Homo sapiens: one gene and its partner. The protein of the gene in region 2 interacts with the protein of the main gene of each other region in a pairwise test. Each region holds a gene or a part of one and is shown on either strand. Other genes may lie near its edges.

The links. The genes of interacting proteins can lie anywhere in the genome.
Region 1: the proteins of MID2 (region 2) and SHFL interact in binary tests that used the Homo sapiens proteins (3 or more experiments, as listed by UniProt).

Annotation. Positions count from the first base shown.
Region 1 is NC_000019.10:10,089,317-10,093,065, reverse strand, and holds part of SHFL (shiftless antiviral inhibitor of ribosomal frameshifting protein), read right to left. Parts: coding exon of another isoform or gene 3,688-3,749; intron 3,588-3,687; coding exon of another isoform or gene 3,577-3,587; exon of another isoform or gene 3,416-3,576; intron 3,410-3,415; coding exon 3,371-3,409; intron 3,169-3,370; coding exon 3,019-3,168; intron 1,817-3,018; coding exon 1,713-1,816; exon of another isoform or gene 1,591-1,712; coding exon 1,436-1,590; intron 997-1,435; coding exon 764-996; 3' UTR 478-763; coding exon of another isoform or gene 287-477; 3' UTR 1-286. Other genes in the region: ANGPTL6 (angiopoietin-related protein 6), read left to right, coding at 287-477.
Region 2 is NC_000023.11:107,823,774-107,827,522, forward strand, and holds the start of MID2 (probable E3 ubiquitin-protein ligase MID2), read left to right. Parts: upstream 1-2,092; 5' UTR 2,093-2,653; coding exon 2,654-2,657; intron 2,658-3,749. UniProt on the Homo sapiens protein: E3 ubiquitin ligase that plays a role in microtubule stabilization. Mediates the 'Lys-48'-linked polyubiquitination of LRRK2 to drive its localization to microtubules and its proteasomal degradation in neurons.

The DNA.
Region 1 (3,749 bases), on a different chromosome or scaffold from region 2:
TTTTCTTTGATAAAGGAATGAACGGTAGACTCCTAGTTTGCAGAAAAGGTGGGAAAGATGTGACTTGTACTTTGGTAAGGAGATAGGGAAGGAATTAAGGCTATTACTCTGAAGAAAGTTGGGGGGCCAGGGCTCCTATTTTTTTGCTGAGGAGATGGAAGATCAGGGCTTGTATTCAATAAGAATGGGAGGGGCCAGGGGATGCCTGGCAAAAGCCTTGCACTGTGAGGTGCAGGTAGAGGCTTTTATTCTGGTGAGAGGACATGGACTCTCTCTCTCCCCTCAGGTAACTGTGCCCTGTACCAGCGGGGAGGCTGGTGGTACCATGCCTGTGCCCACTCCAACCTCAACGGTGTGTGGCACCACGGCGGCCACTACCGAAGCCGCTACCAGGATGGTGTCTACTGGGCTGAGTTTCGTGGTGGGGCATATTCTCTCAGGAAGGCCGCCATGCTCATTCGGCCCCTGAAGCTGTGACTCTGTGTTCCTCTGTCCCCTAGGCCCTAGAGGACATTGGTCAGCAGGAGCCCAAGTTGTTCTGGCCACACCTTCTTTGTGGCTCAGTGCCAATGTGTCCCACAGAACTTCCCACTGTGGATCTGTGACCCTGGGCGCTGAAAATGGGACCCAGGAATCCCCCCCGTCAATATCTTGGCCTCAGATGGCTCCCCAAGGTCATTCATATCTCGGTTTGAGCTCATATCTTATAATAACACAAAGTAGCCACAGACCGTGTCTGGTTTGTATCTGCACCTGGCAGGGGTCACTCCCTGGGCCCGCCCTCCTCGTCCTCCACCTCCTCCTCTTCCTCCTCCTCCTCCTTCAGGTCCTCCAGGATGAGGTTGTCCAGGTCTTCCAGGAGGCCACCCTGGCTCAAGCAGGTGGCCACAGTGGAGCCACTGCTAATGTGAGGGTTGCTGGGGTGGAGCACTTTGGGCAGGTGGTTCTGCTTCCGGCTCTTGGGGTGAGCACAGGATGTCCCAGGCACGTGGGGCTCTAGGGAGGGAGAGGTGCTGCAGACATGGGGCTGGAGGTCCCATGAGAGTCTGGGGAGGAGGGGACTTAGGCCACGCGGGGCTCTAGGGAGGAGCTGAGACCACCAGATACGGGGACCAGCACAACTGGACATTCAGGGGTGTTGAAGATACAGGAGACCTGGGGACATGGGGGTCACCTGAGATTACAGGGGACAAAACAGGGGCCCCAAACCCAGAGACCATGGGGGCAGAGGCCATGGGGACCCTCAGGCACGGGCCACTGGGGTGAAACCTCAGAGCCTCCTGGGCAAGACCACGGAGACTGGGGGGTCATGGAGGCCATGTGGAAGCAGTGGCTGCTGCTGTGGGAGACAAAGTGGACTGAGTGGAGATTTGGGGACTTAAAGGCACAGAAGGGGACAAAGACTGTCCAGGCTGTTGGGGGAGAAGAGCCTCACCTCGCCGGTTGTAGCAGTCGGCAGCTGAGCAGGAGTGAGTGTGGGTGCTGCGGCGATCCGGGTCCCGGTCCCAGCGCGGGGGGAGGATCCGTGTTGGATACACGGGGAAGCCGCACCCGTAGCAGGGGGACGGGGACCCCATCTGTGCCCAGCCCCTGGGGGCGGGCAGGGCTGTGAGGGTCCGAGGGCGAGGCTGGGCCAGGGTGGGGCCAGGGCAGGGAGGGGCAGGGCTGGGGTAGGGCAGGGCTGAGGGGGAGCTGGGGGTCAGCGCCCTCACCGGAAGTTGTGCCGACACTTCGGGCAGTGGAACTCAGCCAGGCCCCACATCTTGTCAGCTGGCACTGGCTCGTAGCGCTTCCGGCATTTCCGGCACCGGGATACCTGGTGGTGGTGGGCAGGAAGGTACAGAGAGGGGACCAAGGATTGTCAGAGGTGTCTGAGGTTGGGGTCAGGGCTAGCAGTGTGCTGCAGCGGCTGGCCTCAGCTTGAGCAACCCAACTCAATCAGTGACTTCACGTGGGTAGCCTGATATTGACCATGGTGGGAATATTTACACCACAGAAATTGGCAAACACTACACATCTTGGCTTCCTGCCTCTTTTGCAAGAACTAGTTAAGCATTGACCAGAAGTGAACTACTAGTCAGGAGGTTCAGAAGCCAGATTTGGGGCTGTGTTTTTGAGGTCAGATTTGGTTTCTTTTCTTTCTTTCTTTTTTTTTTTAGAGACAGAGTCTTGCTCTGTCACCCAGGCTGGAATGCAGTGTTGTGATCATGGCTTACTGCAGCCTCGACCTCCCAGGCTCAAACGATCCTCCCACCTCAGCCTCCTGAGTAGTTGGGACCACAGGCACACACCACCACTCCCAGCTAATTAAAAAAATTTTTTTTTGCCAGGCACAGTGGCTCATGCCTGTAATCCCAGCACTTTGGGAGGCTGAGGTGGTAGATTGCTTGAGCCCAGGAGTTTGAGACCAGCTTGGGCAACATGGCAAAACCCCATCTCCACACACACACACAAAATACAAAAATTAGCCAAGTGTGGTGGCGCAGGCCTGTAGTCCCAGCTGCTTGGGAGGTTGAGGTGGGAGGATCACCTGAGGCCAGGAGGTGGAGGCTGCAGTGAGCTATGATCCCGCCACTGCACTCCAGCCTGGGTGACAGGGCGAGACCCCCTGTCTTCAAAACACATTTTTTTTTGGAGACAGGGTCTCACCCTGTCACCCAGGCTGGTCTCAAACTCCTAAATTCAAGCGATCCTCCCTACTTAGCCTCCCAAAACACTGAGATTGCAGCCATGAGCCACTGCGCCTGGCCAGGTTTGATTTCTGTAGTAGCTGTTCAATTGTGGGTCAAGGGTCAGGTTCTGGGGTAAGGAGGTATTGGGCTTCTCACATTTAAGGTCAGAAGTCCAGTCCTGGGTCAGGGGTTGGGATCAGAGATCAAGGCTGAGCTCTGAGTTTGGAGGTCAGGGATTGGACTCTCAGTGATTGAAATCCTTAGGTCAGAGGTACAGTCACTGAGGATAGGAGTCAGGAGTGGAGTTCGGGACAGTCAAAGTCGAGGTTAAGTTTTAGGTCATCACCTCCTTCCGCTGGGGCACGCGGCGCCACCAGACGTGGTCGCAGGAGGAGCAGGCAAACTGCCGGTCCACAGCAGGGATAAGGTCGTCCTGGGCACGTTGAAACATGCGTAGGTTGGCTTCTGTCAGTGGCAGGAGGGAGGTCGCCACTGCCTGTGGAATGGGGCAGGTGGGGATGAGGTGGGGGGGTGTCACCCCTTCTGCACCAACATAAGCATCAGCCCTCCTCTCCCTACAGACGAGTCCTCTTCCTGCCCCAGTGAATATCTCCCCTCCTGCCCTAATGGACATCCTTCTGTGCCTGCAGATGTCCCCCTCCCAACTCCCCCATCCCAAGCCCTAGCCACCAACTCACCTGAATGTCCCGGTCCTGCTTCATATCTTCTGGTGGATCCTGGGTGGAGATAGCAGGGGCAGAAACTGGGGATGGGGCTCAGGCCTCTTTCCACCCGTTTGCTGGGGGAGGCCCCCGGCCGCAATGAGTAGGGTGCCCCTAACTCGCCAGAAGCTCACAGAGCACCACTCACTTATTGAGAGCCAGGTGTGTGGCCTCAGTTGTCCTCATAGCAGCCCTGAGAGGTGGGCACACCTGTTACCTTATTGCTCAGATGGGGAAACTGAGGCTTAGGGGAGGGCTTGCCTGAGTGAGGCTAGCCTGACCCCCATACTCACTTCCTGCCTGCAAATGCCACATGCTTGTTGATGTTGTGACATATCGCCCCTTTGAGGCCACG
Region 2 (3,749 bases):
AGAATCATGGAATATTTGTCTTTTTGTGACTGGCTTATTTCACTTAGCATAATGTCCTCAAGGTTCATCAACTTTGTAACATGTGACAGGATTTCCTTCTTTTTTTGAAACTGAATAATATGCCCTTGTGTATATATACCATATTTTCTTTATCTATTCATCTCTTGATGGACATTAAATTTGCTTCTGCCTCTTGAATGATGCTGCTGTAAGCGTGGGTTTGCCAGTATCTTTTTGAGATCCTGTTTTCTATTTGCTTGGATATATATCTAGAAGTAAGATTGTTTAATCATATAGTAGTTCTATTTTTAATTTTTTGAGGAACCTCCATACTATTTTCCATAGCAGCTACACCAGTTTACATTCCCTTGCATAGTGGCTGTACCTTTTTACAATAGTGTGCAAGGGTTCCAATCTCTCCACAACCTTAACACTTATTATTTTCTGTTCTAATTTTATTTTTTGTAGAGACACGTTCTATTCATGTTACCCAGGCTGATCTCTAACTGCTGGTCTCAAGTGACTCTCTTGCCTCAGCATCCCCTCCTGAGTAGCTGGGATTACAAGTGTGAACCACACCTTGCCGTATTTTCCTGTGTGTTTGTTTTGTGTGTGTGTGTGTGTGTGTGTGTGTGTGTGTGTGACCATCCTAATGGATGTGAAGTGATATTTCATTGGGGTTTGATTTGCATTTCCCTAACAATTAGTGATGTGGATCATCTTTGCATATGCCTGTTGGCCACTTGTATATCTTCGTTGGAGAAATGTCTATTCAAGTCTTTTGTCCACTTTTAAGAGTTTTTTTTTTAATTGAGCTATAGAAGTTCTTTATACATTCTGGATATTAGCACATTATCCGATATATGGTTTGCAAATATTTTCTATCATTTTGTAGGTTGCTTTTTCACTCTGTTGATTGTGTCCTTTCCTGTGCAGATGTTTGAAAGTTTTATGGTCCCATTTACCTATTTTTGCTTTTGTTGCCTGTGCTTTAAGTGTGACTCACTAACTTTTACTTCTCTTAGGGGCCAGACTTTCATCAGGAGAGCCTGGTTGTGACTTTTGTCTTGGTTTCCACCTCAGTGCTCTCTAGCACATTGTTTAACAGGAGTGTTGACTGATTACTATTGGTTCCCTGAAGGGATATACCAAGAGATACCTCAATTTTTCTGGACTTGTTCCTATGCACAATGATGGGAGGCGTGTGTGTGTGTGTGCTGGGGTGAGTCTTCCCATTTTCTCATTTCTTTCCCCTTCTTCTCCCTTTTTGCCCCAAGTTAGAAACAGAGTCTCTTATGGGGCTTCCTGCTCTTTCCCTCTCCCATCCACCTTTTGAGTCGGGTGGTGGTCTCTGAGCCAATGACAGGTCAGCAAACAGGCTGATTCCAGACCAATGGGAGGATGCTGGATTCCAAATGGACCAATTAGCTTATTAGGGACCTGGAATAGCTGGATAGCTAGCATCTGCCTCATTGTCCATGTGGTAACGACCCTCTTGTTTTACTGGTCAACAATTTGAAGGTACAAGAAAAATCCTACTTTTTTTTTTCTTTTGATGGTTTTAATCCACCTCCACAACTTCTGCCCGAGGCCAATAAAACACAGCCATTCTTTTTTTGTAAAAAGAAAGAGAGGTTCGGTTTCCTTCAATTGTCTGCCCTTTTCTATCTCCTCCACTATTTTTGTTTTACTCTGTAGTTAACTTTGCATAGAGCAGCTTCATAGGGAGGATCTCTGCGGTGGACCCGGCTCTCTCTTCTTATTACCCGTTGCAAAGGCCTCTTTCTTGTTCTAACCTGGGGGTTTGTGGGGTTGGGGGACAGGGGGATTGGGGAGTGGGAGAAGAGTTTAGCCATAGCCTTCCTTCTGCATTTCACACACATTTAGCTATCTCTGTCGCTCTGTCACACACACACACACGCACATACACACCATACACACACACACGCACACCCGTCCGGGTCCCTCTCGGTGTGTCTTCCTTCAAGATGACAGGGCGCTGGAGAAAAGGCTGCTGGAATCAGCTGGTAGGTACAGTAGTAACCCGAGCCCCACCCACCGGCTGCCTTTGCTTGCTCAGGTTTCTCCGGTCACTCCTGCCAGGGGAGAAGACATGTAAACGTGCCTCCAGAGGAAGGGCTGGGGGAGCTGGGAGTGGCGGGGGCGGCGGAAGGTGAGCCTGGGAAGGTGGCCGAGCACCCCTTCTTCTTGGGCCCTTCCCAGTGCTCCCTTGGGGTGTCAGCCCCAGCCCCGTTTGCCCCCACTCCGCCTCCCTTTTGGAAGGGATTGCCTTTTTTTTCCTCTGCGGCGGCGGAAATGACAGTGTGGTGCTGCCGTGGTGTCATGGTGCTGCCCCTGGACTGAGGGGCGAAAACTCTTAAGTTTAGCTCGGGAGGCCCAGCTGCGGTAGCATCGCGGCCGCCGTGCTGTCCCCTGCGGGGCGCGCGGGCTGGCGGATCCCGGCTGCTGCGCGGCGTCGGCGACGGTAGCGGCAGCGGCGGCGAAGGCGGGCGGCGGCCTACAGTGGTAGCGGCGGCGGCGGCGACCGGGGCCCGGGAGCTCGCGCCGGAGCCCGAGCCAACCCGCTGCGGAGGCAGACGAGAGCCCAGCGCCCTCGAGCGAGCGGAGGAGATGGCTGGCACCTGGGAACGCTATGGGTAAAACGCGCCCCCTCGCCGCGGCCCTGGAGGTCGAGCGTCGTAGCCCTCGCAGGGCTAGTCTCCGGCTCCGGCCGCTTTTCAGGTGCCGCCGGGGCCCGGCGTTGGCCGAGGGCTCTCCGGCTCGGCGAGGCAGGGTGATGGGGCCCGCGAGGCTCGAAACGGCGACGGGGGCCCCAGCTCAGCTCCGGCTCTCAGTCATGCTGTTGGGGCCCGGGTTCCTGCCACTGCCCTCCTGGGACGGAGTTTGCACTCCGGGGTGCGGGGCGGGGGCGGCCGAGGCCTCTGCGCAGCCTGGCCGGGCCCGGCGCGGGCAGTCGAGCGAATCCCCCGGCGCCTGGGCGCGAGTCTGGGAAAGGGCACGGCCGCCTTCCCACGCTCCCGCAGCCGGCAGCCTCCTCGGCCCAGGCGTCGCCCCTTGGCCGGCCGTCTGCCGGGCGGTGCTGTCGCAGCAGCCGGCGTGGCTGCGGACGCCCTGCCGGCGGGGAGGCCCGGTGAAACTTAATCCCTTTTCTGCCAGGGAGCGATCCTCGAGTCTCCGTCTGGATGGTTCCTTATTTCTGGCCTAGCTGTGAAATCAGCTCTGTGGGGGAGAGGGAAAACTTACATATGTCCACAGGACAGACTGCGACGCAACCAGGGAGAGTGGGGATTTTCCATTCCTGCCTTGTAAGAATTAAGTAAATAACGGCGGAGTAGATTTACAGAAACATTACTGGTGATGATAAGGTTTAGGTTACTTAGCACTTCGTGTGTTGCACATTATTTTTCAGAGGTGTTTCTTCTTAGAGCAGGAAATTGAAATCCTGCAGTCGTTGTACTCTTTACTTTCTCTCTTCCACGGTCCCCTACCCGTTTTCAGGATCACTCACCTTCCTATGTCACAACGCTTACTTGCCTACCCAAATCCCCCAGCAGAGCCCCTTGGACCCCAGCCTTTCCCCATCAACGTGTGCACTCCCAGCCTCCCAGCCATGCAGCATCTTACTTCTCAACCACTTTGCCTTTTTGAGGATTTCTGAGTGTGGGGCGGATAGATGGTGATGGTTGTGTGTCTCTGAGGATGAGCCCTTATAAAGGAATATATTGGAA